4 linked regions of the Homo sapiens genome follow. The protein of the gene in region 1 interacts with the protein of each later gene in a pairwise test. Each region holds a gene or a part of one and is shown in the gene's direction. Other genes may lie near its edges.

Region 1 (4,457 bases):
AAAAGATGGAGGGTCTCCAGGAGGCTGAGGCAGGAGAATGGCATGAACCCGGGAGGCCCCGGAGCTTGCAGTTAGCTGAGATCATGCCACTGCACTCCAGCCTGGGCGACAGAGCAAGACTCCGTCTCAAAAAAAAAAAAAAAAGATAGGGTATCATTATGTTGCCAAGGCTGATGTCAAACTCCTGGGCTCAAGCGATCCACCTGCGTCGGTCTCCCAAAGTGCTGGAATTACAGGCCTGAGCCACCACACCTGGCCAACTTTTGTTGTTGTTTTTGTTTTTGTTTTTTGAGATGGAGTCTAGCTCTGTCGCCCAGACTGGAGTTCAGTGGCATGATCTTGGCTCCCTTTGTTTCATTTCATTTTCTAATTGTCTGATGGTACTTTGTATGAATATAGTCAATTTTTTATATTGACCTTATACCCAGCAATCTTGCTAAATAAATTTATTAATTGTAACAGTTTATAGATTATTTTCAGTTTTTAGGTATAAAACTGTCCAGAAATACAGTTTTATTTCTTTCTTTCAATTCTGTATACCTTTTATTTATGTTTCTTCCCTTATTCTACTAGCTAGAACTTCCAGCAGTGCTGACTAGAAGTGTGCCTTGTTCTTGACCTCAAAGGAGAACTTTCAACATTTTGCATCATGTTTATTATAGAGTTTTGTAGATCTCCTGTGTCAAAATTAGGAAGTTCCATTGTATTTCTAACTTTGCTGAGAAGTTTTATTAAAAATGGATGTTGGATGTGGATGCAGGTGGCTCACACCTGTAATCCCAGCACTTCGGGAGGCTGAGGTGGGAGAATCAGTTGAAGCCAGGAGTTCAAGACCAGCCTGGGCAACAAAGCAAGACACTGTCTCTACAAAAAACAAACAAAAAACCTAGCCAGGCATGGTGGTGCGTGCCTGTGATGATCCCAGCTACTTGGGAAGCTAAGGTGGGAGGATAGCTTTAGCCCAGGAGTTTGAGGCTGCAGTGAGCTATAATTGTACCAGTACACTCCACTGTAGGTGACAGAGTGAGACCCCATCTCTGGGGGGGTTGGAAAAAGAATGGATGTTGAAATTTGTCAAATGCAGCCGGGCGTGGTGGCTCACGCCTGTAATACCAGCACTTTGGGAGGCCGAGGTGGGTGGATCACGAGGTCAAGAGATCGAGACCATCCTGGCTAACACAGTGAAACCCCATCTCTACTAAAGAAATACAAAAAATTAGCCAGGCGTGGTGGCGGGCTCCTGTAATCCCAGCTACTCGGGAGGCTGAGGCAGGAGAATGGCATCAACCCGGGAGGCAGAGCTTGCAGTGAGTCAAGATCGCGCCACTGCACTCCAGCCTGGGTGACAGAGCGAGACTCCATCTCAAAAAAAAAAAAAAAAAGAAATTTGTCAAATGCCACTTCTGCATTTATTAAGATATTCATATGATCTTTCTGTTTTAATCTGTTACTGTAGAAAATTATATTGCTTTTACATATATTGTTTTTAAAGTTTGTTTTAAATAAAAGTCATCCAAGTGAGACTTATTTATGTACAGATGAGACTGTAGCAAGCCATTCCCTTCCATTGGGTCATCTTTTTTTTGCACTTCATTTTAGGCAGTTGAATTTGAATGACAATATAAGCAGGTGTTTATCATGACTGTGTGCCAGGCTCCTTCCTGAGCATGTTGTGTGTATTATCCCATAAATCATCTCAACTGACTCAGTGAGATAGCTACTGCTGTTCCTGTTTTTCAGATGAGAAAACTGATTCTGAGAGATTCTGAGTGATTTGCCCAGGTCACAGCTGGTAGGTAGCCACGCTAGGATTTATATCTGGTCTATTTGCAAAACATTTGCTCTGAAACCATACCAGTGCTTTTTACTCCATCCGCTCATCAGAATCACATGAGAAACAGTCTTATAATACTGTGCCCTAGACAGTAGCCAGACTAGTTCTCAGGGAATAGTTTACCATCCAAAATACATTTGTTAGAAAACAAGAAAGATGAAAAATAAATGAACCATCCAAGATAAGCCAGAGAAAAGCAGCAAAATAAACCCAATGAAAGTAGTGGAAGGTATAATTTAAAAAATATATATATAGAAGACAATAACTCCCATGAAACTGTAAGATTAACATCTCGTGTTTAAATTTTGTTTTTTCTGTTTTAGGCATAAAGGCATCACAAGTGGTCGGGCTCAGCTACTCTGGTTCCTACAGACTTTCTTCTTTGGGATAGCGTCTCTCACCATCTTGATTGCTTACAAACGGAAGCGCCAAAAACAAACTTGAAGTTGTCTGAAAGCTTGCTCTACACTTTTACATTCATCCTCACCCTTTTTTTTGTGGGGTAGAGGAGGTGCAGTAATTTACTCAGTGATCTTTCTACTTTCTAGAAACTGTCCTTCAAAGCTCTTTAAGACCCCCTCGTTAGTCAGTTTTTTCTCTTATATGCTCTGGTTGAGCTTGAATAGACCAGTTGTTACTTAAGAAAGAAACAGAGAAAGATTTTAGCTTTTCAATCCTATTTGGCAGAGGACTTCAGCTACCTTCTTACAGTCTTTGGCTGTGTTGGTACCCTCGTGTGCTCTGAGCTAAGCCACATACTAAACTGACTTTTTGGTTTGTATACCCTTGCTCCCGCCTTCTGATGAAAACACCTTACCCTCACAACCACCATCTTTCCTCTCCTTTCCAAAGCTCTTTCCACCTTGCTGCACTAAGATAAAGTGACACTTCCACTATATGTCAATTCCACACACATTTATTAGGTACCTGTGAGGTAGGATCCTATCCTCTCAAACTTCCATTTCTCATGCTACAGAGAAAGATAAGGAAGATGAGCAAGTGCCTGGAATGGGGCAGGCTGAGCAGTCACACAGGCATAGAGGCACGCTGAGAACCTGGAGGGGAGACTGCAGAGTGCCTTCCCTGATGCTGCAGCCGGAAGTGATCCTTCCCTCCACCTGGCCCCTGGGACACTGTGCTCTGCAGTGTGCAGGGCCTGATGGCACTGCTAGATTGCTCCTTCAGCTCAGGGCCACAGCTTAAACAGCTTTACCTTTCCCCTCAGCACCTGTCCCACTATCTTGCACACAGGTGCTCTAACCATGTTTATTGAACAAAGGAGGGAAACTGATTTCACTTTCACTTGTTCATTATCATTCCAATTTTTATGTGAAAATGGCACAACCCATTTGGGGTACCCTCACCCCAAAATAAAAGCCCAAGTCTACCTTTGACTGGTACCACCTTTTTTGTGGTTTCGTTGGTGAGAAACCTTTATCTTTTTCATACCTTTCTATTCTCAATCACTTCTCCAAAAGTGTGTCTTTCCAGCTCTGATTTATTCAAAACACAAGCATTTCTGTTTAGAGATTCTAGCCCATGGGTTATCTGGCTAGTTATTACCTCTCCTGTTCACTTAGTTATACTTTATTATTGCTCACAGGCTGGGGAGGCAGAATGACTCTGTCACCACTAGGAGCCATTAGGGCTTCTTCCCTGGAGGACTGCCTGCTTGCTTTCTGGGGACACTAGCCCTCATTTCCCTTCTGTGGTACAGTGGGGCAAATTATTTGTATTAAGCAAACATTTATGGGAAACAACCCGCTCCCGAAAACGGAGCCCCCAAGTAAAGCACAACCCTGAAAGATTATGAACTATGAATTGTCTCTGGTAGAGATAAATTTCTGCAAACATATCTCAGTCTTCCCTCTGTTTCTCTGGTGATTAAGAAGTTCCTTTTTGGTAAGGAAAAGGATTTTTAACCATAGAGTTAGGCATCATGGAAATTCAAACCAGATTTCTTAATACCTGGTCTTCCTCAAAGAGAAATAATAACAGTAATAGTGGTGCTGGGAACAATATGGCAGATTATTGAATGAAATTGATTAACTTGAATAAAATGCTGTGAATTTTCTCTAGCTGAATGCTTTTCTTGTATTTGTCAGTTTTAACATATTGATGCACATTTGATACTTTTTCTCAAATAGACTACTAGGGAACTGTTTATACACTTCAGATATCAGTTTGTTTTTCACTGATAAAGAAATGCAAAACACTGTGGTTGTCGGGTATATACGTACTATATTTTAGAACTGTCCATGTCCCACTTACCTCCTCCACATACAAGGAATCACTAGGGTGGACCTGAGTGTCTCCTTTTCATTGTAGGATTGTCTCCTTTTTGTTTCTGTTTTTATTCAACATTTGATAAAGTCTATGCACTAAGTAAGGAGTGTTCTGGCATTTTTTTAAATGCATGAAGTCCGGTATGCATCACTTAACAATGGGGATGCCTTCTGAGAAATGCACTATTAGGTGAGTGCATTGTTGTGCAGATATCATAGGGTGTACTCACAAACCAAATGGTAGAGCCGACTACACACCTAGTTTATATGATACAGTCTGTTGCCCCTAGGCTACAAACCTGTACAGCATGTAGAGTAGTACTGAATACTGAAGGTAA
Region 2 (5,619 bases), on another chromosome or scaffold:
AGAATCGCTTGAACCTGGGAGGCGGAGGTTGCAGTGAGCCAAGATCGCGCCATTGCACTCCAGCCTGGGTGACAGAGTGAGACTCCGTCTCAAACAAATAAATAAATAATTAAAATTAAAAAAATATAGAGATGAGGTCTCAAGGTTGGGGGGCCTGGTTGAGGGTACTGTCCTTCTCTTCCTGTTTGTCAATGAGGGGATGGCCCTGGTAGAGGGTACTGTCCTTTTCTTCATACAAACCAAGGATGTGTGAGCTCTCCTCGCAGCCTTCTTACTCTCCACTTTTTTTTTTTTTTTTTTTTTTTTTGAGACAGTGTTTCACTCTTGTTGCCCAGGCTGGAGAGTACAATGGCAGGATCTCAGCTCACTACAATCTCCACCTACTGGGTTCAAGCGATTCTCCTGCCTCAGCCTCCCGCGTAGCTGGGATTACAGGCGCCCACCACCAGGCCCAGCTAACTTTTTGTATTTTTAGTAGAGATAGGGTTTCACCATGTTGGCCAGGCAGTTCTTGAACCCCTAACCTCAGGTGATCTGCCCGCCTCAGCCTCCCAAAGTACTGGGATTACAGGCGTGAGCCACTGCGCCTGGCCCTTACTCTCCTTTCATTCAGACTTTGCCATCACCTAAAATCCTTAGGGGTACTTTGGGAGGCGGAGGCGGGCAGATCATGAGGTCAGGAGATTGAGACCATCCTGGCTAACACGGTGAAACCCCGTCTCTATTAAAAATACAAAAAAATTAGCCGGGTGCGGTGGCGAGCGCCTACAGTCCCAACTACTCGGGAGGCTGAGGCAGGAGAATGGCGTGAACCCGGGAGCCGAGATAGCGCCACTGCAGTCTGGCCTGGGTGAAAGAGTGAGACTCCGTCTCAAAAAAAAAAAAAAAAAAATCCTTAGGGGTATTTTCACATGAACTACTGTTAATCTAGAAGGCACCTTTGAATTTCTTAACCCAAATGCAGGTCTTTTCTTTCCATTTTCCCTAATACATATGCTCTTGTTACTTTTTTTTTCTTTTTTTTTTTTTGAGATGGTGTCTTACTCTGTTACCCAGGCTGGAGTGCAGTGGCGCAATCTTGGCTCACTACAACTTCTGTCTCCAGGCTCAAGCAGTTTTCCTGCCTCAGCCCCCCGAGTAGCTGAGATTACAGGTGTGAGCCACCATGCCCAGCTAATTTTTTTTGTATTTTTAGTAGAGACAGGGTTTCAACATGTTGGCCAGGCTGGTCTCGAACTTCTGACCTCAGATAATCCACCCATCTTGGCCACCCAAAGTGCTGGGATTACAGGCGTGAGCCACCACACCTGGCCTGCTCTTGTTACTTTTGATACAGGATTCCAGGTAGCTCGCTAAAATAAAATATTCTTCCTATTGAGCTAAAATTAGTCTTCCTGTCACTTCTGATTGTGGTCCAGCAGTCAGTTGTCCCACCAGCCTCCTGACCATCATGCAGCCTTGCATTTTCTCCCAATAGGTTTTCCCAAAATAAATATGTTCCTGCTCATGTAACTTAGCCTGCCATCTTAAACTCCTGGGGAATACTGGTTTCAGATAGAAGTTGGCTTAAGCAGTAAAAATCATCAGGGAGCTAAAGGAAGACTCAGTGATTGTCTGGTCCAGGCTTCCCATTTTACAAAGGGAAAATCACAACAGATTAGGGGAAGAGAGTTGCTCAGGTCAGTCGGCAATAGTGGCAGGACTAGAATCCAGGTCCTTTTCCTCTCTTATCCAGGGTCCTTTCTTCTTTACCATGGACAAGTTCATTAAGCAGTTTGTGCCTCAGTTTCATCATCTGTAAAATGAGGTCGTTATGAGGATTAAATGAGTTAATTCATGTAGAGTACTTAAAACAATCTAGTACTTGGTGCCAGGCGTGGTGGCTCACACCTGTAATCCCAGCACTTTGGGAGGCCAAGGCAGGTGGATCATGAGGTCAGGAGATCGAGACCATCCTGGCTAACACGGTAAAACCCCATCTCTAATAAAAATACAAAAAATTAGCCGGGTGTGGTGATGGGCGCCTGTAATCCCAGCACTTTGGGAGGCCAAGGCGGGTGGATCACCAGGTCAGGAGATCGAGACCATCCTGGCTAACACGGTGAAACCACGTCTCTACTAAAAATAAAAATAAAAAATTAGCCGGGCATGGTGGTGGGTACCTGTAGTCCCAGCTACTCAGGAGGCTGAGGCAGGAGAATGGCGTGAACCTGGGAGGCGGAGCTTGCAGTGAGCCGAGATTGGGCCACTGCACTCCAGCCTGGGCGACAGAGCGAGACTCTGTCTCAAAAAATAACAAGAACAACAAAAAAACAATCTGGTACTTGGTTCATTATACTATGCTGCTTCCTAGTGCAGAAGAGAAGCAGCAGTTACTCTTCCCTCCCTTTCACAGGTAAAAAAGAATAGAGGCACATGAATCATGTAATAAGTGGTCCTTCATATATTAAGAAGTGATCCTTCATATATTAAGAGGAAGTTGCTCTCCCCTCCCTCCATTGAGGGGTGTGTATTGAACATATCTTCCACGAAATCTGTGGCTGACCCATCCTCTGGGCTTCAAGCCCTCCTAGAGGTGGCTTCTTTGCTCTCCTCTTTACCTCTGCCCCTCAAATTGGCAGAAGGGAAGGTAATGAACAGGTTTGGGTTCATATCATGGCTTTGCTATTTCCCAGATGTGTGATCTTGGACCAGTCTTACTTAACCCTTGGAATCTTAGTTTCTTCATCTGCAAGAGGATAAATACAATGGAACACACTGCAGCTATAAAAGAATGAGAAAACCATTTTTATATTGATATAAAATGATCTCCAGGATATATTAAATGGGGGAAAAATAAACATGCAGAGACAGTCTATATAGTATGCTGCCATACTTCAGAAAAGGGAAAAATAACTTTTTGCTCATATATGCACTTTTTAAAAAATCACTCAATGTATTATCACACTGGCTCTTCTTCTTCCTTCTTCCTCCTTTCTTTCTTCTTCTTCTTCCTTCTTTCTTCTTTTCTTCTTTCTCCAAGAAAAGCACACTGGTCTTTAAGAAAAAAATAAAAGAAAAAAATCTGCTGGGCATGGTGGCTCACACCTGTAATCTCAGCACTTTGGGAGGCCAAGGCACTTTGGTAGGCTGTGGTGGGAGGACTGCCTGAGCTCAGGAGTTGGGGGCTGCCACTGCACTCCAGCCTGGCTGACAGAGACCCCATCTATAATTTAAAAAAAAAAAAAAATAGGCCAGGCGCGGTGGCTCACGCCTGTAATCCCAGCACTTTGGGAGGCCAAGGCAGGCGGATCATCAGGTCAGGAGATTGAGACCATCTCGGGTGAAACCCCATCTCTACTAAAAATACAAAAAAATAGCCAGGCATGGTGGCGGGCGCCCGTAGTCTCAGCTACTCAGGAGGCTGAGGCAGGAGAATTGCTTGAACCCGGGAGGCGGAGGTTGCAGTGAGCTGAGATCGCACCACTGCACTCCAGCCTGGGTGACAGAGAGAGACTCTGTCTCAAAAATAAAAAAATAATAATAATTTAAAAAATCACTCAGTGCACAAGAAACCATAATATTGATGCCTGGGGTGGGGGTGGGGGAGAATAGGGTGGGAATCGGTAAAGGGAGGAAGATATTTTACTATACTCATTGAATTTGCTCAAACATTTTAAAGTTTGTACAGCCAGGTGTGGTGGCCCGCATCTGTAATCCCAGCTACTCAGGAGTCTGAGGTGAGAGAATCACTCAAGGCCAGAAGTTTGAGCCCAGACTGGCAACATAGCAAGACCATGTCTCTAAAAAAATAAAAATAAATCGAAAAGTAAATAAAAGAGGGAAAGGAATAACATACTCAACTTCATAAAGATGTGGGGAAGTCAAATCAATCACTTATAGTAATTAGCGCTGTGCCTAATACATGTTAAGTGCATAAACTTTGGCTGTATTTGGAAGTACCAGCCATACCCACCAACTGCATCTGCCTCCCCTATCTACTCCCCCCACCGTCAGCCTATTGCCAATCAGCTGACGCGCTTCCCTCGAGAGTAGCCTGACCCTTTTCTTGCCCCCATAGGCTGATCTACTGGCTGACCTTTGCCGTGGGCCGCTCCTTCCGAGGCTTCGGCTACGGCCTGACGTTTCTGCCACTGCTGTCGATGCTGATGTGGAACCTCTACTACATGTTCGTGGTGGAGCCGGAGCGCATGCTCACTGCCACCGAGAGCCGCCTGGACTACCCGGACCACGCCCGCTCGGCCTCCGACTACAGGCCCCGCCCCTGGGGCTGAGCCTCTCCGCCCTCGCCCTCGGAGTAGGGGGTAGCGGCTTGGGTCTGACACATCTTTGAACCTTGTGGCCAGGCCTGGACTTCGCCCCCAGGCCTAGGACCGCGGTGGGTGGAACCCTGCTACTGCCCCAACAGGGACTCCAATCAATCGGAGTTCTCCCCTTGCCGGAGCTGCCCTTCACCTTTGGGGCCCGAGACAGTCATAAGGGATGGACTTAGTTTTCTTGCAGGGAAAAAGGTGGACAGCCGTGTTTCTTAAGGATGCTGAGGGCATGGGGCCAGGACCAGGGGAGAGGCACAGCTCCTTCCTGAGCAGCCTCTCACCACTGCCACAAGGCTCCCTAATGCTGGTCTCTGCTCCACTCCCCGGCTTCCCGTGAGGCAGGAGGCAGAGCCACAGCCAAGGCCCTGACCACTTCTGTGCCAGTTGTCTAAGCAGAGCGCCTCAGGGACGCTGGAAATGCCTTAAGGATAGAGGCTGGGCATCACATCAAATGGGACTGTGGTGTTTGGTGAAAACCTTCCTGAGGATCTGGATTCAGGACCCTCCATGACTGGCCTATTTACTGTTTACAGCTGGCCAGTGCAGAGCTGCTGCTCTTTTACCTTTTTAGGCCCCTGTAACTTCCCACCTTTAAACTGCCCAGAAGGCATGCCTCTCCCACAGGAAGAGGGGAGCAGACAGGGAAATCTGCCTACCAAGAGGGGTGTGTGTGTCTTTGTGCCCACACGTGGTGGCTGGGGAGTGCCTGGATGGTGCGGTGGTTGATGTTAACCTAGTGTGTGTGTGTGTGTGTGTGTGTGTGTGTGTGTGTGTGTGTGTGTAACAATAAATTACTACCAGTCTTTGCTGGCTCTTTTTTCCTGTTTGTCCCCCAGTCTCGAGTGTCCCTTCCCTGTTTAATTCAGATGACGATAGAAACCTCCCAGCTCTACCTGGTGGAGCAGGGCTGGCAGGTTCCTTGGTTCCACAGCAAGGAAATGGAGCCTCAAACAGAAACTTGCCTTCCAAGCCCATCTCTTAGCCCTTCCATTCCCTGGAACCAGCCCAAGACCAGCCCAACAACACTCACACATCAAGAGACTGGAGCCCTGTGAAAAAAAATAAATCTATTTTCTTGCCTTCCAGGGCAGCCAACCAGTCAGAATGCCTCTCATTTAGGCCTGCAAGTCCCATCCAAGGGAAATGTGTGGAGATGCAAGAAGGCAACACCAAGGGGACCTTATCAATAGCCCTGTCCCCTGCCCGCCTCCAAAGTCCCCCAACAAAGTATGAAGGAAGCCCCACCTGGGGGTCTCCAGGAAGTCGAGGCTGGCCTCTGAGGTTCCACAGAAAAGCAAGATGG
Region 3 (7,849 bases), 9.9 Mb from region 1:
AAACAAAAACAAAAACCAGAGCTAGCTGGGCATAGTGGCTCACGCCCATAATCTCAACATTTGGGGAGGCCCAGGCAAGACGATCATTTGAGCCCCAGGAGTTTGAGTCCAGCCTGGGAAACATAGCAAGAATTTGCCTCTAAAAAATAAGAAAGATTTTTTATCAAGCAGGATAAAAAAAGGAAAAATAAAGAGTAATATGAAGAACAAGTGACAGCAACTCCTGGACAAACCAAAGCTGGTATTGGCTGCATCCTTGCAGGCAGTGCGTATTCCCCACCTCCACTGCATCAAGCCCAAGAAAAAGGCTGAAGGGGATGCTAAGGAAGTTAAAGCCAAGGTGAAGGACAAACCACGGAGAAGATCTGCAAAGTTATCACTAAAACTGCTCCTCCACACCAGAGCCAAAGCCTAAAAAGCCTCTGCAAAGAAGGGAGAAAGAGGTACTCAAAGAGAAAAGGGGGAAAGCAGATGCTGGCAAGGGTGGGAATAACCCTGTCTATCTAATGCTGAGAATATGTAAAGGAGTAAGCATACAGTCGGGGGAAGAATTACATAAGATGCCTCCCCTCAAACCCTCCATTGGTTCTTCAGGTCACCAAAAATAAAAGCTAAAGTCCTCACCTACAAGGCTTTCAAGATTTGCCTCCTGTTAAGAGACAATTCTCCATGAAGCTCTTTGATTTTTGCACTTCTTTCAAACAGAGGTGCCAGCTGCCTTTGTTTGGACTATCTTTTGAAGGACATTTATATAATGAACAGCCTTGGAAGACAGTGTCCCTCTGGTGCAGGGGACAGGTCTGTATACTGCCCAGTGTCATACCATTTCCCACTGGGTCAGAGTTCAGGCAGGTCCGCTTGCAGCCATTATGAAAGATTTGGGTTCCCTAAGTTCTGGGTTCCTCAGCTGTGTTGCACACCATCGAATGGGCAGTGTCCATTCAGACTGCTCTGTGTCACCCCATTGTCCTCAGAAAGGAGGAGGGAGGAAGGGGCAAGTGGAAGTAACACAAACAGGAAGTTCATGCTGCTCGCTATGCCGGAAGTAATAACATAGTTTGTCTCTGATCCAGGAGTCCTGTGACTGCCAGCATCTGAGACTGTGTCAGGCTAACCTGTTAACCTGCAAGTTAGGTAGAACCCCAGAACCTCCACAGTTCTGACCACAAACACCTCACCCCATTTCCTACCACTCCTTCTGTTGCTCACCTTGCCTGGTCACACTGGCCTCCCAGATGTTCCTGGAAACTGCCAGGCACACTCCTGCCTTAGGGCCTCTGCTGTCAGCCTGGAACAGTCTACCCTGACAGCCATGTAATGTCCTTCATGTTCTTATCCAAATAGCACCTGGGTGGGGCCTTTCTTGACTTCTGTATTTGATTTAGTTAATTAATTAATTAATTTAGAGACAAGGTCTCGCTCTGTTGCCTAGGCTGGAGTGCAATCATGGCTCACTGTACCCTCAACCTCCTGGGCTCAAGCGACCCTCCTGCCTCGGTCTCCCAGTGTTGGGATTACAGGCATAAGCCACCATGCCCAGTCTGACTTCTCTATCTGAAACAGCCTTCCCACCAATAAACTGGTGAACTTTTGCCAATCTGACAGGTGAAAATGGTATCTCAGTAAGTTTCAAATTTATCTTTTATTTTTTAAAATCTATTTCTATTTCAGTATAGATATAACTATACAGAGATACATAGACAAATAAATGGATTTATATATTTTCTATATCTATTATTCTATAATATCTATATTTATATTTTCTATAGTATCTATATTTCTATTACTATTTTATTATGCTTGAGTCATTTTTGGGCCAGGCGCAGTGGCTCATGCCTGTAATCCCAGCACTTTGGGAGGCCTAGGCGGGCGGATCACTGGAGGTTAGGAGTTTGAGACCAGCCTGGCCAACAAGGTGAGACCTCATCTCTACTAAAAATACAAAGACCATGTCTACTAAAAATACAAAGATTAGCCGGGCTCGGTGGCTCATGCCTGTAATCCCAACTATGCAGGAGGCTGAGGCAGGAGAATCGCTTGAATCCTGGAGGCAGAGGTTGCAGTGAGCCGAGACCGCCACTGTACTCCAGCCTGGGTGACAGAGTGAGACTAGGTCTCAGAAAAAAAAAAAAAAAAGAAAAGTCATTTTTATTTCCTTTCCTATGAATTATCTGTTCTGAACTGTTGCCTATTTTCCTATTGTGTTGTTAGTCTTTTTCATACTTCTTACTTGCCTATGATGTGATTATTTTTCTCAACTTGTCATTTGTCTGAGTTTGCTTATGGTGTCATGATTGTTGTTATGCCATATAAGTTTTTAATTTTTATGTAGTTAAATTTGTCAATCTTTTCTTTTATGGCATCTACATTTTCTTTTCTTTCTTTTTTTTTTTTTTTTTTGAGATGGAGTCTCAGTCTGTTGCCCGGGGTTGGAGTGCAGTGGTGTGATCTCGGCTCACTGCAACCTCTGCCGCAGGGGTTCAAGCGATTCGCCTGCCTCAGCCTCCCAAGTAGCTGGGATTACAGGCGCCTGCCACTACGCCTGGCTAATTTTTTGTATTTGTAGTAGAGATGGGGTTTTACCATGTTGGCCAGGCTGGTCTCGAACTCCTGACCTTGTGATTCGCCAGTCTCAGCCTCCCAAAGCGCTGGGATTACAGGCATGAGTCACCACGCCCGGTCTAGATTTTCAATCATACCCAGAAAGGTCTTCTCATTGCAAAATTATAAGGAATCCATGCTTTCTTCTGTTTTTCTAGTACCTTTATAGTGTCATTTCAAAATACACACATCTTTTCATCACTTGAAACTTGTTTAGAGTAATAAACTTTTGGAGATTCAACCTGTAGGTTTTTTTGACTACCCAATTGTCTCAACCCCTTTTATTATTTATTAATTTATTTAACAACACATAACAGAATCATTTATTGAAAACAGTACTCTGGAAAAACTATGTGCACAACAATGCCTGTTTCACCCATTTTACAGTGGGTACATGGTGGTCTGGGGCATTCGTCAACTTGCTCAAGCCTTTAGGTAAGTAGAGTTTGCGGCTTTTCTGAGAATCTGCCTGCATGTTCCCTCCTTCCCCAGCCTCCCAAGCCATCCTGTGGTTCAGACACCTCCACCTCGTGCAGCCAGGCTCTCAACAAAGCCAGTAATCCAATGTGTTGGCTTGCACTGGGCTTGCATCTGTGTCTCCAGGATGCACAAGGGGTTCCAAGCCCCATGGACACATTGTCCCTGGTTTAGCTAAAGCTGGTGAGAAGCCTCAGAAGTGGCCTGACACCTTTCTGTGACAGGACAGGGTTCAAATTCAACATCTAAGACCCCAGGATGAGCGGAGGGTAGAGGGTGGTGAGCTTGCCCACTCAGCTCCCTGAGTATTGCTGGAGTCCCAGGTGCTACTTTAGTTTTATTTCTGCATGTACTTTAGTCATTTCTGTACTTTGCTCTGTTCCATTGTGTTTTTTGTGTGTGTGTGTTTGTGCATGTGCACGCACACCAGTTTTAATAACTTAGGCTCTATAATATGTTTTAATATCCAACAGGGTTAGTTCCCACCTCCTTGTTCTTCATTTTGAAAGCCTGTTTCTGGACTAGTTTTGTTTGGTTTTCTATACGAATTTTAGGAACAAATAGGGTAATTAAAAAAAAAGAACGAAACCACACACGACCTATTAATCCTATTAGTACTTTTATTGGGATTATGTTAAATTTAAATTTTACTAAAGGAGAATTGAGATCTTCATGAACCCACAGACGTCATTCATCTTTCCATTAGACTGTTTTATTTGTAAAATGAGAGTAATAATAGTACCAATCTCGTGGGACTGTCCTGAGAATTAAATGAGAAAATGCATGCGAAATATACTGGGGTGAACACGTTGCTTTGCCACTTAGCTGTGTGAACTTGGGCATGGTAGGTTATTCTGAACATTGCTCTCTCATTTGTCAATAAGGATAATACTAGCATCTGGAGTCACAGGACTCCAATGACGGTGAAATTAGACAAAGCGTGCAAAGTACCCAGTGCTCTGCCTGGAACATAAGTGCACAATAAATATTAGCTGTTTTTCTGTTTTTCTAAAACATAGGCCACCCCAGGGCAAGGAAGTGCGACTCAAAGCAAAAGCAGCTGGGCGCGGTGGCTCACGCCTCTCATCCCAGCATTTTGGAAGGCCGAGGCCAGCGGATCACTTGAGGTCAGAAGTTCGAGACCAGCCTGGCCAACACGGTGAAACCTGTCTCTGTAAAAATACAAAAAAATTAGCCAGGTGTGGTGACATGCGCCTGTAGTTCCAGCTACTCGGGAGGCCGAGGTATGAGAATCGCTTGAATCCGGGAGGTGGAGGTTGCAGTGAGCCGAGATCGCGCCACTGCACTCCAGCCTGGGCGACAAAGTGAGACTCCGCCTCAAAAAAAAAAAAAAAAAAAAAAAAAGCAAGGAAGAAAAAAAGCAAAAGCTTGGAGGGATCCACCTCAAGTGGAGGGCCCCAAGGTCAACTCATCTTTCCCAGGACCTATGTCACCGTCGGTACCCACTTCTGACTTTCCTGGTGCGTCTGGAATGGGAAGCCGCGATCCCGAGTGTACCAGGCCGCTCAGGGACTCCAGGACCCAGCCCCGGACCCAGGGTTCCGGCGCTGCCACGTCTCGCGCGGTCAGCTAGCCAGACGGGAGCAGGCGGGGCCGAGGCGGGGCCAGACCCCGAGCGCGCTTTGTCACGCCTTATGCCCGCCCCTCCGCGGCCCGAGTCGCTGGTGGGACGGCACCGGGGCAGAGAGGCGTAACGCTGTGAGGGGGCGGGGCCCATTACGCGCCCGGAAGTCCCGGGGAGGGGTGTGACGTACATCCGGCGAGTAGCTGGCGGTCCCGGGTGCTGCTGGTTAGTGTGCTCTGAGGGAGGGTCCGAGCCAGCCGCTGTTTTGCCGGAGGAGCCCCTCAGGCCGTGAGTCTGAGGGTCGCGTCGGGGAGGGGAGTTGGGGCTCGAGGGGCTGGGACGGAAGGCGGGGAGGTCGGAGCGGAGGCTGGCCCTGGCGGGGTTGGGTGGGGGGGAAGTGACACGCAGGCGGTTCTGTGGGGCCGCGGGGCTGATTCTGGGCGGGGACGGGACAACTTGGCCAGATCTGCTCCGTCCCCTGCTGTCCTCTTTGCCTGGGGTCCACTTGCATTCCGCTCGGGGGTCTCGCAGCTGCTGGGCCGGATAACAGTTTCTTGTCTGTACCGTGCGCTCCGGTTTACGAAATGGCTCCATGTCCTCTGTCTCGGAAGAGCCTCACAGCCCTCGGTGAGGCGGGTGGGAGCCCTTTATGATTATCCTTGTTTTGTAGACTCGGAGACTGAGGCTGGCCAAGGCTCCGCAGTTAGCGAGTGTGAGCGCTCGAACCTGGTCTACAGGCCCCTAGTCCAGGGCTTACCCCCAAGTCAGCGCTTGGTTGTCTTCCGATGGCCCGGGTCGAACCCTGTATTTTCTCCTTCTCCCTTCCCCTTTTCCCCTGTCTGGTCTCTGCATGGAAAAATTTCCTTATGTGCATTTGACATGGATTAGCGTTTTCTTCACGATTCTAGCCAGTGGGTCAGGAGCATCTTTGTCTTGTTGATTCCATCGGCTTCGGTTGCGACAGGGGGCTTAGGGAGATTCGCCATGGGGCTGACCTTTGACATTTACCCCGCAGCTAAGCAGAGTTAGCTAAAAGCCAGCCGCCTACTACCCCAAATCTGCCTGGAATGGCGTCTTAAAGTTGCCCTGATTATGTATAACAAGTAATGCGTAAATTTTTAAATTGGCTAATGGTCAGATTGGTGCCCTCCTTTTCTATTAACATTTGTTTGAATCATTTAGCCCTGGAATTCGCAAGTTTTCATTTTAGGTACATTAATAGTGTTTTGTTGATAGTTTAGAGACCTACCTTAAATTTTAGATTACTCTTAACTTCTCGTAAGGTGGTACAATGGACCAAGAATAGAAAATAAATAGAATGCTAGTTATTAAAATACCATTCAAAAGATGTGATGAGTTGTAAGGAAGAGAACTTCGGAAGATCATCCTCTGTGTAGTTGGTGGGTTAAAGAAGTTTTAGTTTTTTTTTTTTTCCCCAGCAATTTTGTGGTTTGGGTTTGAATTTTATGTACTGTTAACAGGAAGAGCTTAGGCTTTGGTGTTAGAGATGAGGGTTTAAGCCCTGGCACTATTACTTTTTCAACTGAGCCGTCTTAAAGGACTCAGCAAAACTAGGAGTATCCTCATCTTTATCTTGTTAAATGAGGCCAGTGATCCTTGCCTGGTAGGGTTGGTGTGGGGATGAAATGAGATGTACAAGTACTGTGCAGATTGTAAAACTACTGATGAGTTGGTACAAATCCTAAGATCTTAAGGAGAGAGGAGCCACCAAGGCCATTTTCAGCTGCTGAGGAGGCTGAGGTGGGAGGATCTCTTGAGCCTGGGAGGTTGAGGCTGCAGTGAGCCATGATGGCAACACTGCACTTCAGCCTTGGAGACAGAGTCTTGGTCTGTCTTAAGAAAAGGGGGGCGGGGGCATTTTCTTAACTTTGGGTAGCAGTGCAACCCGACTCTTTGGATCTAGTAAGGGTTTTTATTATTTTTAGCTCACCTGAAGAGTTTCTTCAGTCAGCCTCCACTCTCATCACTCCTTTACAACCCAACACTTCTATATACATTTGTACTACACTGGTTTTCAGTCAATACTTTACAGACTTGTAAAAAATGTTTACATCACTTTAGAAATTTTTCTTTCTTTCTTTTTTTTGAGATGGAGTTTTTGCTCTTGTTGTCCAGACTGGAGTGCAATGTCATGACCTCGGCTCACTACAACCTCTGCCTCCCGGGTTCAAGTGATTCTCCTGCCTCAACCTCCCGAGTAGCTGGGATAACAGGCGCCCACCATGCCTAGCTAATTTTTGTATTTTAAGTAGAGATGGGGTTTCACCATGTTGGCCAGGCTGATCTCGAACTCCTGACCTCAGGTCATCCACTTGCCTCGGCCTCCCAAAGTGCTGGGATTACAGGCATGAGCCAAGTATTTTCAACTAGATGAATTCTGCAAAGGTGAAAAGGAGAAAATGCCACACTTTAAATAGTTTTTCATGGCAATTGAACTACTTTAATTTTCCATTTTATTTTCCTTTGACACTCCTGCTTTTAAGCCATCTCCTCCCTTGGAGCATACAAATCAGCAGCAGCCGGGATTTAGCTACTTGGATGCTTTAATTCTTCCCTCCAAAATGATCTGAGTGGGAATGACCTTAATGAGGGGTGTGCTCTAAAGGTGAGCTGTGCTTCTCCAGGCAGTAGATTGAGAAAAGTATAGGAGGATGTTTGGTTTGAGGGAGTTGCAGAGGAAGGGCACATTGTTCTTTTACTTATTTACAGTAAATGGGAATTTCAGCACAGGAGCTTTATTAAGTATATTTAAGTTGTTGGACTCCTTAAAGTGCGGACTCAATTTCCAGAGAAAACTATTAGTTAATGTGATAAATGCAGTCTTTCTGCTGAAATATATTTGTTATTGAAAAGGCAAAAAAGAAATCACCTCATTTAGTATTTTTTCGTAAGAGCCTAGTATGTATCCACCCAAACTGCCAAACTTTATTTGGCTGTCTTTGGTAAGGGCCGTGAAAAATAAATATTAATTAGGCCCTAAAATTTACAGATTAGGCCATGGGCCTGATAAAAACCCAGTAATTGGATGAAAAACATACCAGCTCTACTTTTCAATTTACTCTTTTTTTTTTTTTTTTGAGATGGAGTCCTGCTCTGTCACCCAGGCTGAAGTGCAGTGGAGCGATCTCCGCTCACTGCAACCTCTGCCTTCTAGGTTCAAGCGTT
Region 4 (7,070 bases), on another chromosome or scaffold:
CCTTGGCCTCCTAAAGTGCTGAGATTACAGGTGTGAGCCAGCACACCTGGCCCCTAATTTTTGTATTTTTAGTGGAGACAGGGTCTCACCATGTTGACCAGGCTGGTCTCAAACTCCTAACCTCAAGTGATCCTCCTGCCTCAGCCTTCCAAAGTGCTGGGGTTACAGGTGTGAGCCACCATGCCTGGTCATTTTTTATTTTTTGTAGAGATGGGGTCTCACTATGTTGCCCAGGCTGGTCTCAAACTCCTGGGTTTAAACAGTCCTCTCATTTCAGCCTCCCAAAGTTCTGGGATTACAGGCATGAGCCACCATGTGTGTCCTTTGCTTAACTTATAAATTCATCCCACTTGGTGCTGTGGTGGGGACACTGTGTCACAGGGGCTCTGCTAACCAAAGGTCCCATGAGCACCTCATTTCATGGCTGGGTAAACCGAGGCCCAAACATCTCAGGGCAAGGATTTCAGCCTGAGGGCTGTTTGTCCTCTCTGAGCTTTGGTTTTCTTTCTTTTTGAGGAGGGTGGGGAGACTGGGTTCTTGCCATTTTGCCCAGACGCTGGGCTGAACTTGTGATTCTCCCACATTGGCCTCTCAAATAGATGGAAACTCGGCAAGTCTCAGTTTTCTTAAAAAAAAAAAACAAAAAAACAAAAAAACCAGACCAACCATTGTTCACTGAGCTGGTCTCTAGCACCAGCACTGTCACCCTGAAGTCTGTCCCATCCTGCCCAGTGTCCTGCACGTGGGGTTCCCCACTCTGGTGGCAGAGTGGCCATTGGAAGTTTGGTTTGTGCCCCAGTGTTGGGCCAGCCCCCTCTGGACAGCTAGTGGGCAGAGCTGAGGGTAGGAGTGGGGGCTCAGGGGAGCGGGTGCCTGTTTGAGCTGCCAGGTGACAGGCTGCATGTCCCTGGACCCTGGCAGGGAACGGGCTGTTGAGGAAGAAGACGCTGGTCCCAGGGCCGCCAGGTTCGAGCCGCCCGGTCAAGGGCCAGGTGGTCACCGTACATCTGCAGACGTCGCTGGAGAATGGCACACGGGTGCAGGAGGAGCCGGAGCTGGTGTTCACTCTGGGTGACTGTGACGTCATCCAGGTGCGGGCTGGGGCGGGACAGGGCAGGGGCGAGGGGCGTGCCTTGCTGGGTCTGAGTCTGCCTGACAGCTGGCTATCCCCACACACCCCAGGCCCTGGATCTCAGTGTCCCACTCATGGACGTGGGGGAGACGGCCATGGTCACTGCTGACTCCAAGTACTGCTACGGCCCCCAAGGCAGGTGAGAGTCAGCCACCCTTAGGTCTCTGCAGGTCTCAGGAGGGGGATGGGTGGAGTGGGTGTACCCCTCGGCTCACCCCATCTACTTGCCCATTTTATAGACAAGAAACTGAGGCTGGGTGAGGTGGCTCACACCTGAAATCCCAGCACTTTGGGAGGTTGAGGTAGGAGGATTGCTTGAGACCTGGAGTTCCAGACCAGCCTAAGCAATATAGACCGCATCTCTATACAAAAAAATTTAAAAATTAGCTGGGTGTGGGCCGGGCGTGGTGGCTTACGCCTGTAATCCCAGCACTTTGGGAGGCCAAGGCGGGTGGATCATGAGGTCAGGAGATCAAGGCCATCCTGGCTAGCACGGTGAAACCCCGTCTCTACTAAAAATACAAAAAATTAGCCAGGCGTGGTGGTGGGTGCCTGTAGTCCCAGCTACTCTGGAGGTTGAGGCAGGAAAATGGCGTGAACCCGGGAGGCGGAGCTTGCAGTGAACCGAGATTGCACCACTGCACTCCAGCCTGGGCAAGAGAGCAAGACTGTCTCAAAAAAAAAAAAAAAAAAAAAAAAAAGCTGGGTGTGGTGCACACCTGTAGTCCCAGCTACTGAGGAGGCTCAGGCAGGAGGATCACTTGAGCCCACGTTTTTGAGGCTGCAGTGAGCCAAGATTGCACCACTGCACTCCAGCCCGGGCAACAGAGTGAGAACCTGTCTCTTAATAAAAAGGAGGAAAACCGAGGCTTAGGGAGGGGAACTCGTTCGTCAAGTCCCGCAGCTCCAAGGCGGCAAGTCACTTCCCCTGCACTTTACTGAGGAGGGAATGATGGAGGGCAGAGGGGAGACAGATCGGGGGCTTGAGCCAAGCTCACTCCTTCCTAGCCAGCCCAGCGGGTTTAGGGGTCACCAGGTCTGAGTGCTGCCCCTGCCTGCTCCCACCCAACTAGCAGGAGCCCATACATCCCCCCGCACGCGGCCCTGTGCCTGGAGGTGACCCTGAAGACGGCTGTGGACGGGCCTGACCTGGAGATGCTCACGGGGCAGGAGCGCGTGGCCCTGGCCAACCGGAAGCGGGAGTGCGGCAACGCCCACTACCAGCGGGCGGACTTCGTCCTGGCCGCCAACTCCTACGACCTCGCCATCAAGGCTATCACCTCCAGCGCCAAAGGTGACCGCCTGGGTCAGATCTCCACCATCTCCCCTGCAAAGGTGTCCACTCCGTGCCAGAAACTTCCAGCCCCAGAGAGCCTCAGACTCAGAATATTCTAGAATAGCCCAGAATATGGGTAGATCCCCAACTGCCCCTAAGCTAGGGCCTGTTACAGACTCGTGGTATATCCCAGACCAGTGGAGTGTTGTAGAATGCAAGTGGATATGGGGATGGGGTGACCATAGACAGGGCCAGTTCACATGTACCACAGGCTAGGCCCTCGCTTGCTTAAGTCTCCATCTTGTAGCTTCCTCAGGAGAGCCCCAGGAAAGCGTGGCCCTTGGTCCGGGGTTAAAATTGGGGAAACTGAGGCCAGAGAGGCAGCCTCCGCAGAGGGGTGGGTGCCGGGGTGTCTGGTGGCATGGTGACGGCTGCCGTGGCGGGCACTGTCTCCCAATAGTGGACATGACGTTCGAGGAGGAGGCACAGCTCCTGCAGTTGAAGGTGAAGTGTCTGAACAACCTGGCGGCCTCGCAGCTGAAGCTCGACCACTACCGCGCAGCCCTGCGCTCCTGCAGCCTTGTGCTGGAGCACCAGCCAGACAACATCAAGGCTCTCTTCCGCAAGGGCAAGGTAGGCCACACCGGGGTGCCAGGCCGGGTCACTCAGCCTGGGGTATACGGGGTGGTCCCCAACCCTGCATTTGAGAAAGGCATAGGTATATAAGCCAGCTGAGCTCTGTGGGGTGCAGGTGGAGAAACTGAGGCCCAGACGGGTGCAGGAGTGTGGCCTGGTCACAACAATTCATTGGCTGAGGCCAGAATTTGATCCTCGAGTCTTGGGTCCCCAACCTTTGGCCCAGTGTTTTTTGTTTGTTTGTTTGTTTGTTTCTTGAGACAGAGTCTCACTCTGTCACCCAGGCTGGAGTGCAGTGGTGTGATCTCAGCTCACCACCGCAACCTCCTCCTCCTGGGTTCAAGCGATTGTCCTGCCTCAACCTCCCAAGTAGCTGGGACTACAGGTGCGAGCCACCACACCCAGTTAATTTTTGTATTTTTAGTAGAGATGTGGTTAGCCATATTGGCCAGGCTGGTCTCGAACTCCTGACCTCAAGTGATCTGCCCGCCTCAGTCTCCCCATGTGCTGAGATTACAGGCCTGAGCCACCGTGCCCGGCTTGGCCCAGTGTTGAAACCTCCTCCCATAGAACCTCCATGGGTCCCAGTTTTCCTCAGAGTAAAGTGGAATCCTAGTCACAGCCCTTGGGGCCTTGAGTTGTCTGGTCTTCCCCCTCCTGCTATCACTTCTCCCACCTCACTTTCTGCTTCTCTCCATCCCACGTGGCATTCTCCCTTTCTGCTGTCTAGCCAGGCTCTCTCCACCTCAGGGCCTTTGCGTAGGCATTGCCGACTGTCTGAGATGTTCCTGACAGGCAGCACGTGGAGGTGACATGCCTCTTGTCCATCTACCTTACTCAAAGGTGGAGATTTGGTCTGTCTTGCTCACTGCCGGATCTCCAGCCTTGCAAACAGGGCCAGGTACATAGTAGGTGCTCAGTAAAAGTCCTGGCAGAGGCCAGGCACAATGGCTCATTCCTGTAATCCCAGCACTTGGGATTACAGGAGGCCAAGGCAGGAGGATCGCATGAGCCCAGACATTTGCGACGAGCCCAGGCAACATAGGGAGACCCCCTTCTCTACCCAAAATATACAAAAATTAGCTGGGTGTGGGGGCGCGGGCCTGTCGTCCCAGTTGCTCAGGAGGCTGAGGATGGCTTGAGCCCCGAAGGTCAAGGCTGCAGTGAGCCTTGATCACACCACTGCACTCCAGCCTTGGCAGCAGAGCAAGACCCTGTGTCAAAAACAAAACACGAGAACAGAAAAAAAAGTTCTGGCAGAACATAGGGGTGAATCTGGCTTGCACAGACTTGACCTTCATTCTCACCCCCTTTTCTGTTCATCCTCACAGCCTCACCCCTAGGTGGGGCTTTCAGGACCTTTTAGCAGTTAACGAAGGAAACTGAGGCACAGATACTGGCTCACCTGCTGTGTTTCTGAAAAGCCTGAGGTGGGGCTCCCTCCAGCTGGGATTTATTAAGGACATACTGTGTGCGGAGTTCTGCAGAGAAATATGAAGAGGGAGAAGATGCAGTTCCTGTTTTTGAAGGCTTTGTTCTCAACCTGGGGGTAGTATCCTCCTGGGGGCAGCAGGAGTGGCTGCTTGTGTAGCTTCATACAAGTTTGGACCTGCTGGTTGAAGGTGATAGAAACCCACTCAAACAGGTTCAAGCAGAAAGGAGGGATCGATAGCTCATGGAACTGCCAAGTTTGGATTAGCTGGCTTCAGGCATAGCTGGATCCAGGCACTCACAATATTGTGGGGATGCTGTTTCTCTGCTCTGACCTTCCCTCCTGGGCCGGCTCCTCTCTCAGGGTGACCATGATGCTCCCCCCTCCCCCCTGGAAAGTTACAGATTTCCATCTTCTACCCCCTCCTTTTTTTTTTTTTTTTGAGACAGAGTCTTGCTCTGTCACCCAGGCTGGAGTGCAGTGGCACGATCTTGGCTCACTGCAACCTCTGCCTCCTGGGTTCAAGCGAGCACATCCAGCCTTTTTTTGTATTTTTAGTATAGACGGGGTTTCACCATGTTGGCCAGGCTGGTCTTGAACTCCTGACCTCAAGTGATCCACCTGCCTTGACCTCCCAAAGTGCTGGGATTATAGGCGTGAGCCACTTCGCCCAGCTCCATCTTCTCCCCTTAGCAACCCATCTCCCATCAGCACCAGCATAGTGCAGGCTGGATCTCATTGACTCATTTGGGTCATGTGCCTGGTCCTGAATCATTCACTATGGCCAAAGCTTTGGAAACATCAGGGCCAGGTGTGGTGCCTCACGCCTGTAATCTCAGCACTTCAGGAGGCCAAGGTAGGAGGATCATTTGAGCCCAGGAATTCAAGACCAGTCTTGGCAGCATAGTGAGACCCCATTGCTACAAAAATTTAAAAAATAATTAAGGGCTGGGCGTGGTGGCTCACGCCTATAATCCCAGCACTTTGGGAGACCGAGGCAGGTGGATTGGTTGAGCCCAGGAGTTCGAAACCATCCTGGGGAACATGGCCCTGTCTCTAAAATAAAATAAATAAATAAGTAGGCCTGGAGCGGTGGCTCATGCCTGTAATACCAGCACTTTGGGAGGCTGAGGCAGGTGGATCACTTGAGGTCAGGAGTTTGAGACCAGCCTGGCCAACATGGTAAAACCCTGTCTCTACTAAAAATACAAAAATTAGCCGGTGGTGGTAGGTGCCTGTAATCCCAGTTACTCGGGAGGCTGAGGCAGGAGAATGGCGTGAACCCGGGAGGCAGAGCTTGCATTGAGCCAAGATCGTGCCACTGCACTCCAGCCTGGGCGAGAGTGAGACTCCATCTCAAAATAATAATAATAACAATAGTAATAATAATTTTATAAATAAATACATAAATAAATAATTCGTTGGACATGGTAGTACACGCCTGTAGTCCCAGCTCCTCGGGAGGCTGAGGCTGGAGGATTGTGTGAGCCTAGGAGTTTGAGGCTGCAGTGAGCTATGATCATGCCATTGCACTCCAGCCTGGGTGACCGATCAAGACCCTGTCTCTAAAGGAAAGAGAAAAAAAAAACAACAACCTCTGGAAGCATCCATTCGGCCTCTCGCCAGTGGAGGTGGTGAGGGAGGAGGCAGCGAGGTGGGTGCCTAGATCTGCAGCTGAGACAGGAAGGAGGAGCATGTTGCGGGGACCAATGCCAAGCTAAGTGTGCACTGATGGAGTTTGAGGGCTAGGAGAGCAGTTTGGGAGTGGCTGGAACCCAGGGATGTTGCCAGAGCTCCATTTGGCACTTGTATGAGTAGCCAGGAGCCTGGCTGTTTTTTTTGTTTGTTTGTTTGTTTTTGAGACGGAGTCTCGCTCTGTCGCCCAGGCTGGACTGCAGTGGCGTGATCTCGGCTCACTGCAAGTGCTGCCTCCTGGGTTCACGCCATTCTCCTGCCTCAGCCTCCCGAGTAGCTGGGACTACAGGCGCCCGCCACCATGCCCGGCTAATTTTTTTGTATTTTTTAGTAGAGACGGAGTTTCACCATGTTAGCCAGGATGGTCTTGACGTCCTGACCTCTTGATCCGCCTGCCTTGACCTCCCAAAGTGCTGGGATTACAGGTGTGAGCCACCGCGCCCAGCCTTTTTTTTTTTTTTTGAGATGGAGTCTCACTCTGTCGCCCAGGCTGGAGTGCAGTGGCACGATCTCGGCTCACTGCAAGCTCCGCCTCCCGGGTTCACGCCATTCTCCTGCCTCAGCCTCCCGAGTAGCTGGGACTATCAGGCGCCCGCCACCTCGCCCAGCTAATTTTTTTTGTATTTTTAGTAGATACAGGGTTTCACCGTCTTAGCCAGGATGGTCTTGATCTCCTGACCTTGTGATCCGCCCGCCTCGGCCTCCCAAAGTGCTGGGATTACAGGCATGAGCCACTGCGCCCGACCCTTTTTTTTTTTTCTTTTTTTAAGACAGGGTTGCACTCTGTCACCCAGACTGGGGTGCAGTGGTGTGATCTCGGCTCACTGCAACTTCTGCCCCCTGGTTCAAGCAATCCTCCCACCTCAGCCTCCTGAGTAGCTAGGACTACAGGTGCATGC

What was found.
Region 2: the proteins of TMEM254 (region 1) and TMEM79 interact in binary tests that used the Homo sapiens proteins (3 or more experiments, as listed by UniProt).
Region 3: the proteins of TMEM254 (region 1) and SAR1A interact in binary tests that used the Homo sapiens proteins (3 or more experiments, as listed by UniProt).
Region 4: the proteins of TMEM254 (region 1) and FKBP8 interact in binary tests that used the Homo sapiens proteins (3 or more experiments, as listed by UniProt).

What each region holds. Positions count from the first base shown.
Region 1 is NC_000010.11:80,088,640-80,093,096, forward strand, and holds the end of TMEM254 (transmembrane protein 254), read left to right. Parts: intron 1-1,740; coding exon of another isoform or gene 1,741-1,773; exon of another isoform or gene 1,774-1,792; intron 1,793-2,157; coding exon 2,158-2,278; 3' UTR 2,279-3,912; downstream 3,913-4,457.
Region 2 is NC_000001.11:156,287,325-156,292,943, forward strand, and holds the end of TMEM79 (transmembrane protein 79), read left to right. Parts: intron 1-4,060; coding exon 4,061-4,274; 3' UTR 4,275-5,119; downstream 5,120-5,619.
Region 3 is NC_000010.11:70,167,515-70,175,363, reverse strand, and holds the start of SAR1A (small COPII coat GTPase SAR1A), read left to right. Parts: upstream 1-4,849; 5' UTR 4,850-4,951; intron 4,952-7,849. UniProt on the Homo sapiens protein: Small GTPase that cycles between an active GTP-bound and an inactive GDP-bound state and mainly functions in vesicle-mediated endoplasmic reticulum (ER) to Golgi transport.
Region 4 is NC_000019.10:18,533,572-18,540,641, reverse strand, and holds part of FKBP8 (peptidyl-prolyl cis-trans isomerase FKBP8), read left to right. Parts: intron 1-921; coding exon 922-1,091; intron 1,092-1,182; coding exon 1,183-1,271; intron 1,272-2,205; coding exon 2,206-2,426; intron 2,427-2,868; coding exon 2,869-3,041; intron 3,042-7,070. UniProt on the Homo sapiens protein: Constitutively inactive PPiase, which becomes active when bound to calmodulin and calcium. Seems to act as a chaperone for BCL2, targets it to the mitochondria and modulates its phosphorylation state.